5 separate regions of the Homo sapiens genome follow, and all the other regions are linked to region 5. The links come from fine-mapping of genetic effects on plasma protein levels. A gene starts in region 5. Each other region holds a variant in brackets. All regions are shown on one strand. Distances are from middle to middle.

Region 1 (5,000 bases), 91 kb after region 5:
TTTTAAATGTGGCAATTAATATACACATTGAAAAGTCGCTGTGAGGGTTAAACACAACATGTCTGCAAGCCAAACCCAGCTTATGGGCCACCAGTTTGCAACCTCAGGGGAAAAGTGTGAACTTTTTAAGGGTGGGGCAATGGTTTCTATTTCTGCTGTTCTTGCACAGTGCTCAGTGTATGTTTCTAAAAGATGGAAATCCCTTCAATTGACCCCTTCTTTGCTCTGGTGCAGAGCAGGGGAAGGGACTCAGGAACTCCCAAGTGATGGGAAGGAGGTGGGATGGGGAGCATGCTGGGATGAAGGTCAAAAAGTCCTGCTGGTGCTAGTCGGAGGAGAAAAAACAGAGGTGTGAATTTCCACTTCTCTCAGACCAGTCATGGGTTAGGGAAACCCAAGGGAATCAGGTACATCACTCTTAGGAAACATGGGGACAAGAGAGCACAGGGTCTTCTCACAGCCCAGAGCTGGGTGAAGCTCCGGGTGTGTGTAGGGCGAAGTGTGAGTCTACCTTGCTAGCCAGTGACAGGCAGGGGCGGGGGGCCCGTCGAGGACTCTCCAGCTTGACGATGCTGATGAATCCAGGCTCCAGATTGTCGTCATCACTGGCATTGCACAGGTACAGCGGGTGGGACTGCAGAGAGAGACAGACTTGGGTTAGGGAGGCTTTAGGCAGCAGGAGTGAGCTGTGAGAGCCATATACCTCTCCATTTTTCTAGGGAGGTACCAGGCAGGTCTCTTGGTGCTGTAAAAGAGTAGGCCTTATGATTGGATTGCCTCTTAGTAAGCTAGTGACCACTGTTTGTCACTTCAGGATGCTGGGGCCAAGGACACAGGTAGTGGAGGCAGATAGGAGGGAGAGGGTGTCCCAGAGGGGACCTAAATGAAGAGCTTGCTGCAAAGCAACTCTAACAACCTTCAACTCCAACAATCCTACTTCTCTAAACTGGCCAGACGCAGAGGGCTCCTCTCCTGGCCCCAGCCTCTCTACCTCCTGATCCTTCTACCTGCTCCCCAAGCCCCAGGCTAAGAGAATATCCATGTGTGCCTGCATCAGTGCTTTCAGAATGCCCATGGGCAGTGCTGGATGCTGCTGGTGCCTCCTGCCTCCTCGGGATGCCCCCAGGCAACTGTTGCCCTGTAGATTCCCATTTCTCAGGAGGCTGGGTCATCTCACTCGGTGCTACCTTGCTTCTCTCACTAGCCCCTTTTTTGCCTCTGCCCTGTACCCATCCTGGGATCAAGCATGGTGTTGACAGAGAGGTGAGACTATCTTGCAATGAGGCTTGGCTAAGACATAAGCTTTGACAGCTCACCCTGGTCCCAGGAATGATGCCGTGGAGGTGGAGCCAGCCCAGCCCATCTGCTCTAAGGGCAGATCCTGTCCAAGACCCTGTGCCTCTGAGCCCAGCTGGTGCTGAACAATGACTAAAGGAGAACGTGCTGACAGAAATCTGAGGCTCTCCTCATCAAAGGGGTGAGACCACCTTACTCTCTCTTCTCATTCACAGCGATTTGTACACCCATTTGAATCTAATTTTCCCTAAACAAAATGTCAGAGTGCAATGAGAACAAAGTATGACTTATTTGGCCCTGAATAATCCTATGGTCCAGGGACTCCTATATAGTAGAAACCCCACATATCCTGGCAAGAAAGAGATTTCTTATTAGAGAGCTGCCCACACTTCCCCCTCTACTACTGTTGATGTCTGAAGGACTTCCAGAAAGAACCATCAGAGGAACCACAGAGAATCTTGAATTTATAAAGATGTTTATGAAGATAATGTCAATGATGGATTTAAAAGCACACTTTCTGAAAGCTCTTTCAGGCTATTTCCTCTCACTGTGTCACCGCGGTCCCTTGAACATAGTAGGTTCTCAATAACTATCTACTACCTTGCTTTGAATCAAAATCTCTGGGCAGGGGGTGTTGAGATAGGAAGGAGTTCCATTCTTGCTCCCAGAGTTTAAGGCCTACTAGTCTGGTAGTGAGCAAGGTTTAGTGTGGGAGAAAGGTTATCATGTGCCCCTGCCCCAAGAAAAAGGCTGGGGCATGAGGGTGGAGTTGTTCTTACATCAGTGAAGCTGTAGCCCCTGTCTCAACAAGCTGCATTAGTCTCTCTATCTGTCCATGCATCCATTCATTTCTTTGTTCTGCCAGCACGGAAGGCCCCCTTGGTGTCAGGCTCTGTCCAATGCAGTGAGGAGCTAATGATGAGTAAGAGAGGCTCCTTGCCTTAAAGCAGCTCAAAAGACAAGCATGCAAACACATCGTGATGTTACAATGCAAGGGGCCTATGGGAGGGCACAAAGAGGGGCAGCTAACAATACATATGGGAAGCAGAGCAGTTTTCACAAGAGGTGACTGGAGAGCTACCTGGAAGGCTAACTAGGTATGTGTTCACCTCAGGGACCAATGAAAGGGAGCGGGGTTGGGGA[G/A]CCACATTCCTGGCAGAGGAAGCCACTGCACCAAGGAACAGAGGCCTAGCACGAGGCTGAGGTAGACTGTGGGCAGTGAGGTCTGGCACGAAAGGGAAGGCAGGACATAAGGCTGGAAGGATCTGCAAGAGTCAGGCCACAGAGCTGAGACCACAGATTTGCACTGGAGACCAATTTCTCTGAAGACTGTGGAGGAGACTCTGGTGTGGTGGGGAATCTGAAGGCAGCTGCTCCACCAGAGCAGAAGATGGAGGCCTTCCCTGAGGAAGGACAAATCGCAGCCACAGAAGGTTCTGCTCTGCTTGCTCCTCGACCCTCCCCACATGGTCCAGCCTTCTCCTGATGACTCCAAGATGCCGCTCACTGACCAGAGGGTCGCCTGGGAGAGGAAAGTCACTTTGGAGAAGTTCCTACAGTGTGTCTGCAGATATTTAAACAGCACTCTTCCCCAGGTTTGAACAGGGAACCAGCATCTACAGCTCAGTGCTGCATTGTAGGATACCTCTGACAAGGTGGAAGGGAAAAAAAACCTGGTATGAGCCACCAAACTTGCCTGGTTCCGAATTAACAACTATGGAAGAAGGAATGGAAGGAAATTAAACATCAATAAAGGCCTCTTGTGTGCCAGAGCTTTTAGACATTATTTCACCATAAGGTAGGTGTTATAGCCATTTTTAAAAACAATTATTTAATTTTTATGTGCACATAGTAGGTGTATATATTTATGGGATACATGATATGTTTTGATATAGGCATGCAATGTGTAATAATCACATCATGGAGAATGGAATATCCATCTCCTCAAGCATTAATCCCTTGTATTACAAACAATTCAATTATACTCTTTTAGTTATTTTTAAATGTACAATAAAATTATTGTTGACTATAGTCACCCCATTGTACTATCAAATACTAGGCCTTATTCATTCATTTTAACTTTTTTTTTAAAACCCATTAACCATCTCCATCTCCCCACTACCCCTATCATAGCCACTTAAAGAAGAGAAGCTTGAGGCTGAGAGAAATCAAGGTCACACAAGATTTGAACTCAACTCTGCCTGACTCCATTGTCGGAGCCATGGAGCTCCAAATGAACCCTCCATCCAGCAACCCTCCATCCATCTCCATGCTAATGATAGTCAGGATGGGGACAGTACAGTTTATATTTATTGGGTAAATACTGTGGGCCAGTGATTGTTCTATGCACTTTTTCATATTAACTCTTTTCATCCTCATAACAACACTATCAGGTAGAGATTGTTATTGTTCCCATTTTAAAGATGAGGAAACTGAGGCACTAAAAGGTTAAATAACATGCCCAAGATTACACAGCTAGTAAGTGGTAGAGATTAGAAAAAAAAAGGAAAGTAGTAGTAGGATAAGGTTAAAAAAATATTTAAGAACAATTTACATTTTATTTTGAAAACATGATACCTTCCCCGAACTCATTTACTAAGAAAATTTATCTTACTAAAGCATAAGGACCCAAATACAAGTCCCTAAAATGTTGATGGTGACCCCCGGGATTCTTAGACCCTCCTCTCTTTTCACTCTTCTTTTTTTTTTTTTTTTGAGACAGAGTCTCGCTGTGTCACCCAGGCTGGAGTGCAGTGGTGCAATCTTGGCTTGCTGCAACCTCCACCTCCTGGGTTCAAGCAATTCTCCTGCCTCAGCCTCCCAAGTAGCTGGGACTACAGGCGCCCGCCACCATGTCTGGCTAATTTTTGTATTTTTAGTAGAGATGGGGTTTCACTATGTTGGCCAGGTTGGTCTTGAACTCCTGACCTCATGATCTGCCTGCCTCGGCCTCCTACAGTGCTGGGATTACAGGCATGAGCCACCGTGTCTGGCCCCCTCTTTTCACTCTTGATGACTTCTCTGGGTGACAGCAGCCAATCCCATGGCTACGGTGCCCACACAGAGGTCAGTGATTACATATGTACAGTTTGGTCTTCTCTTGAGCTCCAGACCCTTATGTCTAACCCTGGACGTTTCTACCTTAATAATCTTAAGTAGAACACCTCAAACTCAGCATGCTCAAGACTGAACTCATTCTATCCCCAAAACTGCTCCTCCAGTGTTTGCTGTCTCTGGGATTGGAACCATCATCCATCTATTACCCAAGCAAGATGCTGTCCTCCTAGCCTCCATCTCCTTCACCCCCACTCTAACCACCAATATCCAATCAATCGCCAAATTCTAACAATTCTACCTCCTAAATATTTGTCTTATTTTATTCTTTCTTCCATTCTCACTATCGCTATTGTAATACAGGCCACCATCACTGCCAACCCTATTTACCGAAATAACCTACTCCCTAGGGTCACTTCATCCCATTCGTTCTCTATATTGCAGCCAAAGTGGTCTAAAATGCTAACTTGAGCACGTTACTCTTCTACTTGCAGCTCTTACAAGGCTCCTCATAGCTCCTGAAATAAAGTCTGTACTCTTAAACATAGCTGAAAAGGCTCTGCCTGGTCTGGGCCCTGCCTCATGGCTTAACATTCCCATCCTATATCTCTTCCCACCTTGCGACCTATGTTCCAGAAATAATAACTTGT
Region 2 (5,178 bases), 19 kb after region 5:
GGGAGTTCCGAGACCAGCCTGGTCAACATGGTGAAACCCTGTCTCTACTAAAAATACAAAAATTAGCCGGGTGTGGTGGCACATGCCTATAATCAAAGCTACTCAAGAGACTGTGGCAGGAGAATCGCTTAAACCTGGGAGGTGGAGGTTGCAGTGAGCCAAGACCGCACCATTGCACTCCAGCCTGGGCGACAGAGCAAAACTCCGTCTCAAAAAAAAAAAAAAAAAAAAAAGGGAGATATAATGCTAGTTCTACACAATCTCTTCCATGATATAGAATGTCATAGAAACTTTCCACCTCATTTTATGAGGCTAACTGTATTCTGATATTAAAACCTGACATGGACATTACAATAAAAGAATACTACAGAACAAGATAACTCATGAAAACACATGCAAAATTCCTCAACAAAAGAGTAGCAAATTGAATTCAGCAATATAAAAAAATCATAACAAATGGGGTTTATCCTGGGAGTACAAATCTATTTCAACTTTTGAAAAATCAATTTAATTCAGCTTATCAACAGCGTAAAGAAAAAAAAGACATTTGATCATCTTAATAGATGCAGAACAAACATTTGACAAAATTTAACATCCAGTTTTGATAAAACCTCTCTGCAATCTAGGAAAAAACAAAAGGAACTTTCTCTGCCTGACAAAGGGCATCTATAAAAACAAAACAGAAAAACTCAATGAAAATCATTCTTAATGGTGAACAATTGAATGCCTTCCCCCTAAGATTAGGAACAAAGCAAGGATATCTGTTTTCACCACTTCTAGTCAACATTGTACAGGAGGTCCTGGCCAGTGCAATAGGCAAGGAAAAAAATTAATGTCATACAAATTGTAAAGGAAGAAATAAAACTGTCTCCATTCCCAGATAACAAATTGCTTTAAAAATTCCAAAGAATAACCGAGAAAAAAGCTACTAGAACTAATAAGTGAGTTTAGCAAGGTTGCAGGATACAAAATCAGTATACAAAACTCAATCGTATTTCTTCATCCTAGATTTTTTCTTTGCAGGACAGTTCTCCAGGTAGCCTTAGACCAACCCAGTTCTTCCCCTTTGTTGTTTGTAGTTATCAAGAATGACTGTAAAATTTGCTGGGAATACAACATCCTGAGATAGGGAGGAACTGACCAGAACAGCCTGGGCTCTCTTCCAGTCCCCCAACAGAAGACAGATGTCCTTCAAGGCTTTATCCCAGAGAGTCCTGATGCTCCTGAGGTATAAAACCCAGAGTAGGCTGTCTTCCAGGGTCCCACAGCTGCAGTGCAAATGGGGTACATGCAGATAAGATTCCACCCAATTTCCTTATTTTTCTTATCTGCTATATATTTAGAAACTATGAAAGGATGCTTTCACTTATCAAATGATTTTTCAACATCTTGAAGTGAGCATGTGATTTTTCTCCTTTGATCTGTTAAAGTAGTGAATTCTATTAACATAGAATAATAGAATTAATCAATTTAATAATAAAATGGTGAAACACTTTTGCCTTATTAAGATAAATGCTACAGGCCAGGTACAGTGGCTCATGTCTGTAATCCCAACAGTTTAGAAGGCCAAGGCAAGAGAATCACTTGAGGCCAGGAGTTCAAGACCAGCCTGGGTAACATAGCAAGACTCCATCTCTTAAAAATTGTTTTTAAATTAGTTGGGCATGGTGGCATGTGCCTATACTCCCAGCTACTCAGGAGGCTGAGGTGAGAAGATCATTTGTGCCCAGGAAGTCAAGGCTGCAGTGAGCTGTGATCATGCCACTGTACTCCTGCCTAGGTGACAGAGCGAGACCCTGTCTCAAAAAAAAAAAAAAAACAAAATTAAAAATGCTACAGCCATGATGTATATTTAATTTCCTAAAGCTATATTTAGGATATTCTGTGTTCATAAACCAGATAGATCTGTCATAATGTTTTCTTGTCCTGTTCTAGATTGGGTGACAAGATTATTCAAGTCTCAAACATTGAATTGGATTGCTTCTCTTTTTTTTTCTGTACTTGTAATCTATTTATCAGCTTCACATGCAGTGAGTCCTTTGAATCTAAGTATCTGTGTCTTTCTTCAGTCCTAGAAAATTTATAGCCATTATTTGTTCTATCACTCATGGTCTCTATTTCTCCCCACATCTTCCCAACCCCAGGGTATTCTTATGAATAGGTATTGAAACATTTGACCCCATCCTCCATGTATAACTTTTCTTTCATTTTGCTCATCTCTTTTATCCCTTTGTACAGCACTCTGAGGGAATTACTTACCTCAAAATTCAAGCTTACTAATTGTATCCAACTATGAATTATATGCTCTTCAC[G/C]CATATATTGAGTCCTTTTTTAACAAGAATATATGTATTTTTTGCAAGATCTCTATTAGGATCACTTTCATAACTACTTGATCTTGTTTCCCATATGTAATTCCTTCCTTTATTTCTCCAACAATAACTGTAGACTTTTTAAAGTTTTCTCCTAATGCTTTACTGACTTATGTATATTTTTCCATTTCCATTTGTTATCTCTCTTAGTGAAGTTGGCTTTCCTCAAATATTTTTTGAGTCTTTACTCTGTTCTTGCCATTGTGGTTGGGAGTCTTTGCTGGACGGCTGGGTGGGAACTGCTGCCATGATTCTGAGGGTTTTGGTTGAGAGGGAAGGGTCACAGTATGCTGCGGTTTGGTGGCTTCTCACCTGGGCGGTGATACATCTTGTTTCTGCCAGGTGCGGCCAGCCACCTAAAGTACCACCTGGTCTCTGATCCAAGCTGCAACCCTTACTGTTCTCTAAGTCTGTCATCTAAAGGCAGACATCTTCACCTTTGCCCTTGGCCCATGGCAGAAGGAGAATGTGCAACAATCATTCAAAGAAAAACCCCAACTAACCACACCATCGGTAGCCCCTAGGGTCTCTTCTGCCCTGTTTGCACTGCCTCTAGTCCAGAGGCAACGTGCAGAGCTCTCCCACATATACCCTACTCTCAAGTTTCTCAGTATGATCTGCCATCTGTTCTTGTCTTTTCCAGAATCCTGTTGTTTTTAGTCTACTGAGAGTCCCCTTTCTTGCTTTCAAATGGAACTGTGTATAGTGTTTATTTGTTCTATTTCTCTCATGTCTATTATTTCTGTGCATTTGGTATAGAGGAGAAAGACTGCAGTGTGTGTTCAGTCCACCATCTTGAAACTGGTGCTTTCCCTCTGTGTGTTTCCCGTCTGTCCCATCTTCCTCCACAACCCCAGCCCCAGTAGCAAATATCTGACCCTGTGACCACGGGCTCAGGAAGCTACCAAACCACCTTCTTAGGAAAAGGATTCAAAAGCTCGTGGTGTTGATTGGTTTTTGCCCCTGTTAGCCTTAGGATGTAACTTCTGGGGTCTGAAGTCCAGAGTCCAAAGCCCAGCTGCCCCACCCCTCCAAGGAGTCCTTTGCCCATGGAGAGTCCAGCATAGATTTTGTGAAAATAGACTTTATTATAATAAAATGTCTTTTTAAACAAATTCCCCCACCATTCCACACCCCTGGAGACCAAGGTCAAGGTGGGGGTTCAGTCAAACTATCTCCCACCACAGCAAAGGAAACATGCAAAGACACACTCACCCCTCAGAGGGTGGGGGATGGAGTGGATCGGGTAACGGCGGAGAACCCCTACCCCACTCTGAACAGGGAATGTATGAAAATAGCTGCATAAATCTGTCCTTTTCTCCAGCCCCTGGACTCCAACAGGGGTTAGAAGAAAACTATGCAAAAGAACTTGAATCCAATGAGCAAAATAAGGCAAACCCAACTCCGCTTTCGGCCCCGCTGGCCCCAGGGTCTTTGGGGGCGGGACCTTACAGGGGCCAGCAGGCCCCGGCAGGGAAGGATGGAGCACGACGGGGGCAGGGTGGGGCCCACTTTGGCTTGGCCTTTCTCCTTCCTGGGCCTGTGCAGTGGAAGCGAGGTGGAGGAAGCTGAACTGAGGCACTGAGTATATACATATATACAGGCTCCGCCCGCCTGCCCGCTGGGGAGATGGGGCTCCAATAAAATCCAGTGCAAACTTTCCTTCAGGGGAGGGAAGACAGGATCAGGACAGCCAGAGCCATCAGGGGGCACAGGCTCCTTTCTCCCTCCAGGGCCCGTCCTGGGACTGGGAAGGGTGGCAGAAGGGACTAGCGCAGCACTGTGGGACACTAGTAGACGAGGTGGGTGGACCAGGACGCGAGGGTCCTGGGTCCAGTCCTGGCTCAGTGACCTTGGTCAAGTTACATACTCACTGTGGGCTCAGTTTCCCCTCCTGTAGGAGGAAGGTGCTTCTCTAGAGAGTTCATCCTTAAGGAGCCATTTAGCTCTGACCTTCACCAAGGCTCTTTGATTCCCTCTGAATGCCACAGTGTTAACGCAGAAGAACGGGGGCTCTGGGCCCAGTCTGAGCCTTCCCTGCTCAGCAGAGACAGTGATCTGGGGGCCTCTCAGGGCCTCTTCTGCCTGCAGGATGGGCCACAGCTTCACTCCTTCTTCCCAGAGCCCAGCCTCCTGAGGAGCTGCTTCCCCTTGGAGAAGAAACCCCACACCTTCTCGCTTCTGCCCTGGGGCTCCCCACGTTCAATCCTGGGGGCGCTGCCAGAGCTGGGGGTACAAGGCCCACCTGGGGGCCCTGGGGACCCTTGTGTGGTGCAGCCCCAGTCCTGAAATGTGAGACAGAAGGAGCAAGGTCAGGGCCTGATTCCCTCCTGACCCCCTGACCCATTTTTTCCACAGCCTAAGGGGCCTGCAGCCTCCCATGTCACAGAACCATGGCTGACGCTGAGAACCAGGGCCTCACCTCCCACCACTGTCAGAAACACACAGCACAGGTGGTGAATGGGGAGGGTGATGCCGAGGGAGCACTAAGCTGGGAGTCCCAGGGGATGCAGTCTCGGTTCTGGATCGCTCACCTGTGACCCTGGGCAGGCCCCTTCCCTTCTCCCTCCAGGGTGCAGGGCTGACAGGGCCCAAGAGTTCTTGGAACCTGCCCCTCAGGATGGGTGCCCCCAACTTCTCACATGTCACCTCCCTCCAAAAACATGGAGCGCAAGGACAAGGACTGCTTAGAAGCAGCTGTCACTGCCCAGGAAGGTAGCTTCTACAGCCCCTCATAGACAGAAAGAGCGTCTCCCCAAACCCAGCAGATGTGGCCCCCCCAGGCCTTCAGGGTGTGGAGCCAGTACCC
Region 3 (3,436 bases), 28 kb after region 5:
CCGGTCTCTGTTGCCTGCAAAAAGAGGGCAACAGATGGCAAAAGTAACACACCATCCCTCTGGTGGGCTCGTGCTCCCCCAGCTCTGCCCCATCAGCGTAAGCAGCACAGCAGCGCAGGAGCACAGCATTCCTCTCCCGGAGCCTCGGCCCAGCCTGCTGGAGACCTCAGACACCCCCACAGTGGGAGGGAGGGCAGGAGGGGAGGCCCCAGCCCCAGCCTGCGAGTAGATGAATGGAGTAGAGGGGACTGGAGTTGGCTGAGGAGCCCGCGAGAGGAGGGCCT[C/T]CCGTCAGCATCAGGGCAGGTAACCCTGGACATGGCATCACAGTCAGCGTCCTGAAGCCATTACTAGCTATGCAGAGGAAAGGGCGACCCTGCCCACAGGCCGCAACAGGCGACTAGTGATAGAATATTGTGCATCCCAGTCCTGATCAGCAGAAGCAGCAAAGCAGTGGAATGTGGGTGGGAGGAGGCAGGTGAGGGAGCCCGGAGGCCCGGCCCCACCTCTGCTGATGGAGGCAGGCAGCGTGGAATGGGAGCTGCTGGTGGGCAGCAAGCAGGGCCACCAGGTGGCAGCAGGCAGGGGCTGCCCAGGGCGGGGAGTGAGCACGGACCCGGGAGAGTGGCTCCTTGGCTCTGCCCGTCGCACTGCGGCCTCTCCGCTCTGGTTCCCCTTTCTCCCAGGCTGGGAGGCGTGGGTAGGGCTTGGGGCCTGAATTGGCCTTCGGAGGCCCCCTGGGCCTTCCTACAGTTGCTGTGCCCCAGGCCTCCCCATCTCCAGGGTAGCAGGAGCTGGTGATGCTGATGCCCCCGCTGCCCGCCTCCTGCTCATCCTCCGAATCATATTCAATGCTGATTTCCAAGCACTTGGGGGAAAGGCAGCTGGCCAGGCCAGGCTCCAGCGCCCGGCCACGGGAGCACCTCCGGGAAGGGCCCAGCCGGCCTCTCCCGCTAGCCTCTAGTCCAGTCCTGGGGCCCTCAATTACGGGGAGGCCACCCCTCTCCCGTGTGGGGCCCAGTCGTCCAGAGGCCTGGGGCCCATTGTTGCTGAGAAGTCGGCTGCAGTGTTCTCGGGGATCTGGAGGCCGCCTGCGGCTTGGGGGCTTCTCAGGGGAGCCCCCTCCTCTCCTCCGGCTGCTTCCACCAACTAATCCAGGCATGTCTTCCAGGCAGTCTCCAGCCCTGGAGGACTCAGGAGACAAGGGACACTGGCCAGGTCTTCGGGGCTGACCACTGTCACAGCCCAGCCCCAGCAATGCAGGTTCAGGCGGGCCAGGGTCTCGGGAAGAACAGCCTGCCCCTGACTTCTCCTCCTCCTCGTCCTCCTCTTCCTCTTCCTCCTCCTCCGGGATGCTAAAGAGCTTCTTGCTACAGAACTGCTGGAGGGGCAGCTCCAGGATCTGCTCCAAGATCTCCTCATCGCTGTCAGTCTCACAAAAGGGGTCGGGCTGGGACTGGTGGAGGTGGGGAGGTGGGAGTAGAACACAGCAGGGAAGAGAGATGCGTGGGGAAGAGGAGAGCGAGCTGCGATCTTTGCCCTCAAACGAAGGCAGGGGTTACGGACAACCCCACAGCCCTCCCACGGCTTCCTCCGAGAGGAGAGAACCAGAGGGACGGTGGCTGGCCCAAATTCACACACATATCCAGTGAGAGCCAAAGGAAGAATTAGGGAACACACTCTAGGAACCATCACCAGCCCCTGTGGGACAGGAGCATTGAGGAGCAGGCCTCCCCATCCCCTCCCCAGAAGCTACCAGCACAAGGATCTTAGGTGGCACCGGCCTCCCCTGGCCAGGGCGCTGTATCTGGTGGGCTGGAGGGAGAGAAGGTACAGAAATGAACTCCTCCCCTTCCCCTTTCTTTCCAGGAGGGCAGGGGCCAATCCTGGGGCACTTCCTATCTTCTGCTTAGGACAGGGCCCAGGCCACAGACCTAGAATGTTTCTGGCACTCAGTGGTGGTCAGAGCACCTGCTGACACACAGTGGGGAGGCCCCGGAGTTTGAGGCCTGGGGCCCAACAGCCCATCCCTACCCCGTTACCTTGGCCCCATTCTCCCTGATGCTGTTGCCAGCAACCTGCTTCTGGAAGGAGCAAGTCCTGGAACCCAGCTCCTCTTCCTCCTCCTCCTCCTCCTCTTCCTCTTCCTCCTGGATGTCTGACAGGTCTGAGTTGCGGCCGTGGTCCACGAGGGAGTTCACCAGATGAACCCCAAGCTCTGCTGTGTCCTCCTTCTGCAAGAAGTGAGGCAAGGCAGGAGAGATAAGGACAGTGAGGGGGCACAGGGGGTTCCAGGCAGGGTCAGCCCCAGCCACAGTAACAAGGGTCCTTTGGCAGAGGGAGAAAGAGCCATGTCCTAAATGGGGGAGGCACACCATGGCTCAGGGGCAGGGTGGGAGAAGGGAGATGGGAGCCACATGGGACAGAGAAATCCTAGAAGAAAAACAGACACATAGCACAGCCAAAGGTGTGAGAGCAGGACCAGAGCAGAGGACAGGCAGAGAGGGCAACTGGATTTGCGCTGGCAAAAGGTAGGGAGACAGGCCTCAATTCTCTGAAGTGACACAGTGTGTCCCCAAACCCCTACCTCAGCCCTGGGCCTCAGCCCAGACCCTGGGTCTCCTCCTTGGCACATCTCGGTATTTGGCGCCTGCTGGGCCCGTGCTCCCTGGGTGGAGCTGGAGGCCGGACAGGCCTCTCCTGCAGTCCACTCGGCCTCCTGCTTGGCCAGTGAGGGAGCTGCGGGGCCAGGGTCCTTCTCACCCAGGGTAGATGTGCTGGCTGTCCTCTCCTCTGAGGTGCCCAGCACTGCTGCCCCAGCCTCCTCCTGGAACAGAGAGCACTGAGGAAGGACCCAAGCCCAGGTCCCTCTGCCAGCCTGCACCTGCTCCCCTCTCCCCAGACAGGGTACCTGGGAGCAAGGTGCTGGAGGGTCCTCGTGGGACCCTTTTGCCATCTCTCTGGAAGGGCTTGCAGGGGGTGCTCCTGGAGGCTCTTGAGTTCCAAGGGGAGCAGGGTGCTGGAGAGGAGAGCTGGGGTCTCCAGGCCCTGGGGAGGCTGAAGCAAGGGGCGCTCTGGCCTCTGGGCTTGGGTGCGGTGAGGGGCAGGAGACTCGGGCTGGCAGGCTGGCCGGAGCCAGGGCGGGAGTGATAGGAGCCGGGATGGAGTCCGCCGACTCCCCGTGGGGCGACATGGTGCGCACGACCACCTCACGACACACCTGCAGCAGCTGCAGCTGGGACAACTCCACCAGTACACTGCCTGCCGTGGGTGAGGCCACCTCCATGATCTGCAGGGTGGAGGGGGCACAGGATGGGAAGCAGAGGCTGAGACAGCCAAGCGTGAGGATGCACTGACAGCAGTGGCAGCTAACTGACAGCAGTGGCAGCTAGCATTACGCCAGGTACTGTGCTAAGCCCTCTGCATGGCCTATCTCATT
Region 4 (5,178 bases), 2.4 Mb after region 5:
CGACCTCCCAAAGTGCTGGGATTACAGGGGTTAGCCAGTGTGCCCGGCCAAAAATTGAGATCTTTAAAAGCTTTTTTTTCTTTTTTGAAATAGGGAACGCTTCATGAATTTGTGTCATCTTTGCACAGGGGCCATGCTAATCTTCTTTGTATCATTCCAATTTTAGTATATGTGCTGCTGTAGTAAGCACTTAATGGCATCTTAAAGCAATTTTTTGATGGTTCTTATGGAAAAATATGACTTTTATGAAAAATAGAGCGATTTCATCAGCATTATGTTATTACCAAAAGTAAATTAAAATGCACACAGAGAATGCGATACTTTTGATCTTCTCCATGTTTGAGTACAGAATAGTGGAAGAGTGAATGTGTGCCTATGGTTAATTTTGAGGGTTTGTTTTGAAATCTTGTTCCTTAATGTATCTTATTTTTGTTTACCTGCCAATGGATAGAAAATGCTTGTGACCACGTGAATTTTCACCCACTTGAATAGATTACTTTATAATTTCATCTATTACCCTGAAGACAGAATTCAATGTCATTCTTACCTTTATATTGTCTTCTCACTCAGGTTCCTCCCATTAAACCTTAACACATAGTTCAGTAAATAGAAGGTGAACGAATTAGTGAATGCATACCCCGTTTTTGCCATCCTACTAGCTTCATAAGAAGCCTAATATCACATGCATAGATTTGTTGAGTTCTGGGATAAATTTTTTCTTATTTGTTTTACCTTCTTATTTTTCAGTCACTGGAGGAGGATCCATGGCCAAGGGTGAATTCTAAGGACCATATACCTGCCCTGGTTCGTAGCAATGCCTTCTCAGAGAATTTTTTAGAGGTTTCAGCTGAGATAGCTCGAGAGAATGTCCAAGGTGTAGTCATACCCTCAAAAGATCCAGAACCACTTGAAGAAAATTGCGCTAAAGCCCTGACTTTAAGGATACATGATTCTTTGAATAATAGCCTTCCAATTGGCCTTGTGCCTACTAATTCAACAAACACTGTCATGGACCAAAAAAATTTGAAGATGTCAACTCCTGGCCAAATGAAAGCCCAAGAAATTGAAAGAACCCCTCCAACAAACTTTAAAAGGACATTAGAAGAGTCCAATTCTGGCCCCCTGATGAAGAAGCATAGACGAAATGGCTTAAGTCGAAGTAGTGGTGCTCAGCCTGCAAGTCTCCCCACAACCTCACAGCGAAAGAACTCTGTTAAACTCACCATGCGACGCAGACTTAGGGGCCAGAAGAAAATTGGAAATCCTTTACTTCATCAACACAGGAAAACTGTTTGTGTTTGCTGAAATGCATCTGGGAAATGAGGTTTTTCCAAACTTAGGATATAAGAGGGCTTTTTAAATTTGGTGCCGATGTTGAACTTTTTTTAAGGGGAGAAAATTAAAAGAAATATACAGTTTGACTTTTTGGAATTCAGCAGTTTTATCCTGGCCTTGTACTTGCTTGTATTGTAAATGTGGATTTTGTAGATGTTAGGGTATAAGTTGCTGTAAAATTTGTGTAAATTTGTATCCACACAAATTCAGTCTCTGAATACACAGTATTCAGAGTCTCTGATACACAGTAATTGTGACAATAGGGCTAAATGTTTAAAGAAATCAAAAGAATCTATTAGATTTTAGAAAAACATTTAAACTTTTTAAAATACTTATTAAAAAATTTGTATAAGCCACTTGTCTTGAAAACTGTGCAACTTTTTAAAGTAAATTATTAAGCAGACTGGAAAAGTGATGTATTTTCATAGTGACCTGTGTTTCACTTAATGTTTCTTAGAGCCAAGTGTCTTTTAAACATTATTTTTTATTTCTGATTTCATAATTCAGAACTAAATTTTTCATAGAAGTGTTGAGCCATGCTACAGTTAGTCTTGTCCCAATTAAAATACTATGCAGTATCTCTTACATCAGTAGCATTTTTCTAAAACCTTAGTCATCAGATATGCTTACTAAATCTTCAGCATAGAAGGAAGTGTGTTTGCCTAAAACAATCTAAAACAATTCCCTTCTTTTTCATCCCAGACCAATGGCATTATTAGGTCTTAAAGTAGTTACTCCCTTCTCGTGTTTGCTTAAAATATGTGAAGTTTTCCTTGCTATTTCAATAACAGATGGTGCTGCTAATTCCCAACATTTCTTAAATTATTTTATATCATACAGTTTTCATTGATTATATGGGTATATATTCATCTAATAAATCAGTGAACTGTTCCTCATGTTGCTGAATTTGTAGTTGTTGGTTTATTTTAATGGTATGTACAAGTTGAGTATCCCTTATCCAAAATGCTTGGGACCAGAAGTGTTTCAGATTTTTTAAAATTTTGGAATATTTGCTTTATACTGAGCTTTTGAGTGTTCCCAATCTGAAATTCAAAATGCTCTAATGAGCATTTCCTTTGAGCATCATGCCTGCTCTGAAAAAGTTTCTGATTCTGGAGCATTTTGGATTTTGGATTTTCAGATTAGGGATGCTTAACCTGGATTAACATTCTGTTGTGCCATGATCATGCTTTACAGTGAGTGTATTTTATTTATTTATTATTTTGTTTGTTTGTTTGAGATGGAGTCTCACTCTGTCATCCAGGCTAGAGTGCAGTGGCGTGATCTCGGCTGACTGCAACCTCTGCCTCCCGGGTTCAAGTGATTCTCCTGCCTCAATCTCTCTCCCCAGAAGCTGGGATTACAGGTGTGTGCCACCACACCCGGCTAATTTTTTTTTTTTTTTTTGAGATGGAGTCTAGCTCTGTCATCCAGGCTGGAGTGCAGTGGTGTGATCTCGGCTCCCTGCAACCTCTGCCTTCTGGGTTCCTGCGATTCTCCTGCCTCAGCCTCCTGAGTAGCTGAGATTACAGGCACGCGCCACTGTGCCCAGCCAATTTTTGTATTTTTAGTAGAGATGGGGTTTCACATGTC[A/C]GTCATGCTGGTCTTGATCTCCTGACCTCGTGATCCACCCGCCTCGACCTCCCAAAGTACTGGGATTACAGGCGTGAGCCACCGCATCCGGCCTGAGTTTTATGCTTTCAATGTATTTCTTACATTTCAGTTCAAGTGATTTTCATGTCTCAGCCTCCTGAGTAGCTGGAACTACAGGTGCGTGCCACCATGCCTGGCTAAGTTTTGTATTTTTAGTAGAGATGGGTTTTCATCATGTTGGCCAAGATGGTCTTGATCTCTTGACCTCATGATCCACCAGCCTAGGCCTCCCAAAGTGCTGGGATTACAGGTGTGAGCCACCGTGCCCAGCCAACTATGCCATTATTTAACCATGTCCACACATTCTGGTTATTTTCAATATTTTGCAGAAGATAATTCTTGATCGGTGTGTCTTATGCCACAAGGATTAAAATATGTATTCATTGCTACAAAACAATATCTCGAAATTTAGCAGTTTAAAACAACAAATATTATCTCCAGTTTCTGAGCCTCAGAAATCTGAGAGTGGTTTAGCTGGGTGATAGTCTCGTGGTTTTGGTCAAGCTACCAACCAGGGCTACAATCTTTCGAAGGTGTCATTGGGGCTAGAAGATCTGCTTCCCGCAAGACTCACAGCTGTTGGCAGGAGACCTCAGTTTGTTGCCACATGTTCCCCTCCAGAGGGCCTCTCACAACATGGCAGTTATTTGTCCCCAGAGCAAGCAACACCGGAGGGCAAGGAAGAAGCCATGATGTTTTTTGTAACCTAGCCTCTGAAAGTGTCATACCAATTCTGTATTTTGTTGGTCACACAGACCAAGTCAACTACAACGTGGGAGACTCCTACACAAGGCATGAATTCTAGGAGGTGGGCATTTTTAAGTGTCATCTGGAAGGAGGCTGTCACAACCTGGAAGTTAAAAGCATTGATATTCTGAAATACAGCGTGTATAACATTGTTTTAGTAGGGTGTGCAATAGTTATGTTTTGGTAATAGCATTAATGAACAATGTTATTTTCATCTTCCAGACATCTGGAAGATTGCTCTAGTGGAGTAAAACATCTTAATGTATTTTGTCCCTAAATAAACTATCTCACTAACAAAGTTGAGAATAATTTTTTTTTTTTTTAACAGGGTCTCACTGTCCCCAGGCTGATGTGGAGTGCAGTGGCAAAATCATAGGTCACTGTAACCTTTAACTCCTGGGTTCAAGTGATCCTCCCATCTCAGCTTCCTGAGTAGCTGGGACTACAGGTGCATATCACCACACCTGGTGGATTTTAAAAATTTCCTTAGAGACAAGGTCTCACTGTGTTGCTCAGGCTGGTCTTAAATTCCTGGCCTCAAGTGATCCTCCTGCCTCGGCCTCCCAAAGTGCTAGGCAAATTTTAATCTTAGAGACAAAATATTTAGGCAGTATTAGTGGTTGCATTAGGGATTACAATGTACATACACTTATAGACTACTTAGAATCAATGTTCTATGACTAAAAGTGGAATGTAGGAACGTTACTAGCCAGGTGTGGTGGCATGTGCCTGTAGTCCCAGCTACTCTGGAGTCTGAGGTAGGAGGATCACTTGGGCCCAGGGGGTTGAGGCTTCAGTGAGCCGTGATCACACCACTGCACACCAGCCTGGGCAACAGAGTGAGACACTGCCTCAAAAATAAATAATAAAAGTAACAAAAGTTTTAGCAAAAGGAAAAAAAGTTAAAAGAAAGCAAGCTGGGTATGGTGGTGCATTCCTGTAGTCCTAGCTACTCAGGAAGCTGCGGTGGGAGGATTGCTTGAGCCCAAGAGTTCCAGGCTATAGTGTGCGATGATCACACCTGTGAATAGCTATTGGACTCCAGCCTGGACAGCATAGTTAGGCCCTGTCTCTTACACAAAACACAAAATAACAAAATGAAAACAGGTCGGGTGCGGTGGCTCATGCCTGTAATCCCAGCTCTTTGGGAGGCTGAGGTGGGGGGATCACCTGAGGTCAGGAGTTTGAGACCAGCCTGGCCAACATGGTGAAACCCCATCTCTACTAAACATACAAAAATTAGCTGGGCGCGGTGGCACACACCTGTAATCCCAGCTACTTGGGAGGCTAAGGCAGGAGAATTGCTTGAACCTGGGAGGCAGAGGTTGCAGTGAGCTGAGAATGTACCACTGCACTCCAGCCTAGGTGACAAAGTGAGACTTCGTTGCAAAAACAAAAACAAAAAAACAAAAACAAATGGAAACAGAGAAGAATGTGGTGCTA
Region 5 (5,159 bases):
GTCTGGGAAAGGAAACCTGGGCACAGAAGGGAGATGGCCCCTTCCAGAAACAATCTCCCCTCTCCCAACCCAGGCAGTGGGCGGGAAGCAGGGCCACCTTGAGCGGGAAGCAGGGCGGCTGCTGAACGCAGCTGGTCTCGCAGTTGACGCCAGTGACGAAGGAGGCCCGGGCGGCCGGCTCAGGGGTGAAGTCGAGGTCGTGGTCCAACAGCTGGCCCCATTGCATGAACATGAGTGAGCGCTCCTGGTCCGGAGTCAGCTGATCAGTGGGGAAGCGCACGATCTCGTTGGAGACCGCGCGAGCCTGCGGGACACGGAGATCAGCTGGCGCCTGGGTCCGCGCACCGCGTGGCCGGGCCTCGCCCCCTCTGCCCGCCGGCGCTCACCAGAGCCACCGGGAAGCCGTTGCGCTTGACCCCGGGCGTCCAGCCGTAGGGAAGAGAGAAGCCGTCCTCATACTCCGCCGGCAGCCAGCGCACAAAGGCACGGTTGGAGGCCCCCAGCGTGGGGCTGCGTCTGCAGGGGAGGACAGGGCGCTGACACCGGGAGGCTTGTGGCGTCCGGGACGCCTCTCTGAGCCCGGTTCCTGCAGCCACCCCCAGCCAGCCGCACCTGTTGTTGCACATCCCGGTGATGGTGCGGTATTTGTCCTGCTCCGGGCAAGTCACCCCCACGTCCTGGTAGGCGCAGCCGCTTGACTTGGACAACACATTCAGCTGGGCGGGCGTCAGCACATCTGCCGGGGGAAAGAACAATGGGGGAGCTGAGCCGCCTCACTTCCTATCCCAGGCAACCTGAGGCTGAGGAGCCCTGGAGACTCCTGAGACTCCCTGGAGGAAGAAGTTGAGGGGATCACTGAGAGACGGCTGGGGTCCCTAGGAGGAGTCACTAGTGGAGCAGGGACCTGGGGTGTGATGGGCAACAGTACCAGTGACATTGAATGGCCTTCGCCACAGGGACCGCAGCTTCCTCTCCAGCAGGTCTAGAGCCACGTGCAGGTAGTCAGCGGCCCTCACCGCCGTCCTGGTGGCTGCCACCGGCTGCTTGAAGTAGGATAGGAGTTCCATGGGGCTGGCTGAGCCGCTGCGAAGCCGCTGCTTGATGCTGCTTGGAGAAAGGAGGAGTGAGGGCCAGAGAAGGGATACAGACCCACCCAGCAGAGCCCCAGCCCAGGGGCAGACATGCAGGACCATGCAGGCAGGCCCACGGGTGGGAGGAAGGCTTCCTTTTATAAAAAGGATATGGACCTGGGTGTCCAGACAGAGGCAAGGCTTTGGGAAGGATGGCTTTTAAGCTGTTCTCCCATCCAGAAACACAGGGACAGACAGACAGAAAGGGAGTCCACATGGGTCCCCATAGTCCCCCTCTCCCACCTTCAAGCTCCCTGCTGCCTGCTGCTTCTCTGAAAGGCCTGGGACATCCTTGCCCAGAGCTGGGCAGTGCCTCGTGCCCCACCTTTCCCGCCGCTCCTTGTAGGCCTTGTCCACCAGCTGCTTGGCCTCCTCCATGGAGCTCAGCACCAACGAGGTGTCCACCTCCCCCAGGACAGCTGCCCAGAGCAGGGATCACAAAGTCAGGAATGGGCCCCAACCCCCTATCAGGCCCCAGAGCTAGGAAGGCCTGCTCTGAGAAAAGGGGTCTCTGGAACACAACCACCCCAACACACCATCTTCTCCCACCTTGGGAACTGTTACCTGGAGCAGCACCTTCAGAGGGCTGGGGCGTGGCCAGAATGGCCAGGAGCCCTGCTAGGGCCAGAAGCAGCTTCATCTCTGCAGTGAGACCCCCAGCCCAGCAAGGTCCTAAGTCCACCATGCATCTGAGAGAAGAGAAGAAGGGAACCCCCATCTCTCTTCTCCTGGGCTGCTCAATCCCCCTTTGTACCTCAGCCCCACCTCAGAGGGCCCTGTCTATGGATAAAGCCAGACCTCCTTGAGGGAGGGGCTCACTGCTCTCTTATCCCCTTGCCAGCTGCTGTCATCCAGCTTCCAAGGACCCCACCTCCACAGCTCACCTGATATTGTCAGCTCCTCTTAGCTCAATCTGCGCTTTTATGTCCTCTAAGCTGGGGGTGGGGTGAGGTAGAGGAAGGTCTGATCCTGGAGACTGAACTCTTTCTCCTCCCCCACTGGGGTTGGAAGGTACACACAGAGGGGCCCCTGAAATGGGGGGAAGGGGCAGGAAAGGAGGGGCCAGCATTGTCCCCAGCCTTTTTTTTTTTTTTTTTTGAGACGTTATCTTGCTCTGTTGCCCAGGCTGATGTGCAATGGTTCAAGCGATTCTTCTGCCTCAGCCTCCCGAGTAGCTGGGATTACAGGTGCCCGCCACCACGCCCTAGCCTCTAGCCACATCATCAATTATTTCCTTAGGCAAGAAGTAATTTTTGTATTTTTCCTTAGGCAAGAAGCTAATTTTTGTATTTTTAGTAGATACAGGGTTTCACCATGTTGGCCAGGCTGGTCTTGAACTCCTGACCTCAAGTGATCCACCCGCCTCAGCCTCCCAAAGTGCTGGGATTACAGGCATGAGCCACTGGCCCCAGCCTGTCCCCAGCCTTTGAATTTAGCACTACCAGCCCAAGATTTCTCAGCTCACCATTGTGTGCCTATACCAGTGCTTGTCCCCAGGGGATACACACAACTAACCCCTCTGAAATTCTGGTTACACTGGTTATCCAGGGTTCCTTTGAAAGGAACAAAAGTCAGGAACTGGTAGCCCAAGGAATTGCAGGGAATAGAGTGCCCCCAGGGAAGACAGGAGGATGAAAGGGAGACCTGGAGTAAAGATGACCCAATTGGCCTCAGGTGGCCATCCCCCACTCCAACAGTAACCTGCATCCAACAGCCACCCAATGGGCAGCCTCTGGTTCTTGGTGGGGCTAAGGGGACAGGAAATCTGGCTGGAGACCGTTGGGCTTCACAGGAAGGAGGACCCTGGGGACTGTGGGCGCAGGACCAAGATAACTTCCTCTATCCCTCCTCACTCCCCTTTCTTCTTGGCTTCTGGTAGAGGGCTGTCTCCAAACTCCTCCTCCCCACCACCATCTGCTCCTGGATTTCAGGAACCAGGAGAGAGCAGAACTGGTTGTGGTTAGTGATCAGTTAGGTGATGCAGCCCAGGGCCTCTCTGGGACAGGATCAGTGCAGTTGGGAGGACTTGGGTTAATGATTCAGAATAATTCTGAAACAGAAGAGGATATTTCTTGCTTGAGAAAGCCCAGCAAAAGGGCCACCAATCTCAGCAGGAAAAGTACTACGACTTTTGACTGAATCAGTCTACCTCTCTGGGCCCTGGTCAGGCTGAGCTCGTGCCAACCATGCCTCCCATGTCCCATTTAGGTTCCCCCTCCTACCTTCAGCCACCTTCCCGCCACCCACTCTTTTTTTTTTTTTTTTTTTTTGAGACAGGGTCTCTCACTGTTGGCGGAGCTGGAGTACAGTGGTGCAATCTCGGCTCACTGCAACCTCTGCCTCCTGGGTTCAAGCAATTCTCCTGCCTCAGCCTCCCAAGTAGCTGGGATTACAGGCGCCCGCCACCATGCCCGGCTAATATTTTGTATTTTTAGTAGAGATGGGGTTTCAACATGTTGGCCAGGCTGGTCTCAAACTCCTGACCTCCTCCTGATCCACCCACTGTTGGGATTACAGGCGTGAGCCACCGCGCCCGGCCCACTCTTGTCTTCTATGCCCAGACCACCTCTTGGCCAAGGGACAAGGGACAGCAACACCCAGAATATCTTCCCAGTGTGTCCAGGGATTCTGTCCCCTGCTGAGAAGGGGAACCAAGCTTTTGCCCTGCCAGTGACTTGCTGTGTGTGAAGTTGGTCGAGTGGCTCTTTGTGAATCAAGCTCTAGAATTTTAGAGGCTTTTGGAAATGATTTTTCAATCCTTTAAGTAATATAATTTTCACTGATGAAAAGTTTGAGAACACGAGTATGCAAAAATAAAAATAAATCAAAATTACTCATCATCAAGTGAGATTGTGGGTACTTTTTTCTTTCAAGGTTTATCATTGTCTTCACATAAATAAACAATAGGAAGGAAAATAATTGCCCATAATCCCACCACTCACCAATACCTCATTTAAGAATTTGATATCCTATATGTAAACATAATATATATTTTTAAATATTGATAAGAAGAACTTTAAATATTGTTTTACCATCTACTTTCGGTACTTAACAATTTTAGTCTGAGCATCTCCCTGTGTCAATAAATACAGGTTTACTTCATTTTTATGTCTGTATAATATTTCATATAACTATTTTATATGATTTATTAACTAATTCTATCTCATTAGATACTTAGAGTTGTTTCTGATTTTCATTATTATAAGTAGTACTAGGATAAGCATCCATGGAGTTAAATCTCTCGCCACATCGTCAATTATTTCCTTAGGCAAGAAGTAAAATTCCTGCGTATTTGGGTATGCGTGTTTTAGGGCTTTTTAATATTGATAGTCAAATGGCCTGCTGAAGATTTTACCTCATCCTCCCATCAGCCATGCATGAGAGCACCTGTCCCCTGTCACCCTTGTCAACCTTGAGTATGCTTGAGTGTCCTTTCGCTCTTTTAAGGGAATTGTCAAGGCTCAACAGGGGAGAGATATTTAATGCAAGCCCCTTATTGTAGAGCTGAGAAAGAAGGAGCCCAGGGAAGGAAACGACTTGACCAAGGTCAGCAGTGTGACACAGTTCAGAATAATCTCCATGCCCAGTCTCCTGACTTCCAAACCAGTGCTCTTTACCCAGTAGCCTCTGGACACCTGTTCCTGACCTTTCATTCAATGATTTCTTCAACAAGTATTTACTGAGCCCTTGTCATTCAATGATTCCTTCAACAAGTATTTACTGAGCCCTTGTCAGGTGCTGCGCTGGGCATTGAGCATTCTCCACTGAGCAAAGCATGAGCCTTATCCTCAAGGAGCTCACAGAGGGGAGCAGAAAGGCAAACAAATGGCACCCCCAGAACCAATGCAGGGACCTTAGGGAGCAGCGAAGAGCAGCACTTGGATCAACTGGGGGAGGTCAGTGAAGGCTTTCTTGAGGAATTGATTCTGGAGACTGTCTTGAAGAATGTCTCAAAGCTGACCAAGTAGACACAGAGGAAGAGCATTCTGGGCCCAGAGAATGACACTGTCGGCTTCACTCAGTTCCAAC

Alleles and levels. Positions count from the first base shown, and alleles are read on the strand shown. Strength reflects both the effect of a copy and how common the allele is.
In carriers of allele A in region 1, the plasma level of the protein whose gene starts at base 2,025 in region 5 tends to be lower than with G alone (weak association).
For the plasma level of the protein whose gene starts at base 2,025 in region 5, G is the low allele of the variant in region 2 and C is the other (weak association).
With allele T in place of C in region 3, the plasma level of the protein whose gene starts at base 2,025 in region 5 is lower (moderate association).
For the plasma level of the protein whose gene starts at base 2,025 in region 5, allele A in region 4 goes with a higher level than allele C (moderate association).

What was found. PIP is the posterior inclusion probability: the model's chance that the variant is causal. Protein levels are from antibody-based Olink assays in UK Biobank. Linkage for the fine-mapping came from a reference panel and not from the study's own genotypes, which makes the PIPs less certain.
Region 1: its variant is fine-mapped to the plasma level of the MPO protein (UK Biobank, PIP above 0.99).
Region 2: its variant is fine-mapped to the plasma level of the MPO protein (UK Biobank, PIP 0.98).
Region 3: its variant is fine-mapped to the plasma level of the MPO protein (UK Biobank, PIP above 0.99).
Region 4: its variant is fine-mapped to the plasma level of the MPO protein (UK Biobank, PIP 0.96).

Annotation. Positions count from the first base shown.
Region 1 is chr17:58,370,400-58,375,399 of GRCh38, forward strand. It overlaps RNF43 (ring finger protein 43), which reads right to left. Exons shown (of 10, transcript NM_017763.6): 3 at 512-634. Among named protein-coding and RNA genes, the nearest start is that of SUPT4H1, 21 kb to the left of the region's middle. The variant G/A (reference allele first, on the strand shown) is at 2,440.
Region 2 is chr17:58,297,794-58,302,971 of GRCh38, forward strand. It overlaps TSPOAP1 (TSPO associated protein 1), which reads right to left. Exons shown (of 32, transcript NM_004758.4): 32 at 3,438-4,654. Among named protein-coding and RNA genes, the nearest start is that of MPO, 19 kb to the left of the region's middle. RefSeq lists an enhancer at 4,582-5,178. The variant G/C (reference allele first, on the strand shown) is at 2,313.
Region 3 is chr17:58,307,928-58,311,363 of GRCh38, forward strand. TSPOAP1 (TSPO associated protein 1) reads right to left here. Exons shown (of 32, transcript NM_004758.4): 19 at 2,909-3,286; 20 at 2,585-2,824; 21 at 2,040-2,231; 22 at 614-1,453; 23 at 1-14. Among named protein-coding and RNA genes, the nearest start is that of TSPOAP1-AS1, 16 kb to the right of the region's middle. RefSeq lists an enhancer at 1,608-2,307. The variant C/T (reference allele first, on the strand shown) is at 285.
Region 4 is chr17:60,662,248-60,667,425 of GRCh38, forward strand. It overlaps PPM1D (protein phosphatase, Mg2+/Mn2+ dependent 1D), which reads left to right. Exons shown (of 6, transcript NM_003620.4): 6 at 748-4,033. The coding sequence ends at 1,305. It also overlaps the pseudogene RNU6-623P. Among named protein-coding and RNA genes, the nearest start is that of BCAS3, 13 kb to the right of the region's middle. The variant A/C (reference allele first, on the strand shown) is at 2,929.
Region 5 is chr17:58,278,911-58,284,069 of GRCh38, forward strand. It overlaps MPO (myeloperoxidase), which reads right to left and starts at 2,025. Exons shown (of 12, transcript NM_000250.2): 1 at 1,695-2,025; 2 at 1,456-1,549; 3 at 929-1,104; 4 at 613-736; 5 at 387-516; 6 at 98-304. The coding sequence starts at 1,848. RefSeq lists enhancers at 1-373, 2,958-2,975 and promoters at 2,015-2,609, 2,015-2,155, 2,548-2,949, 2,834-3,059, 3,105-3,305.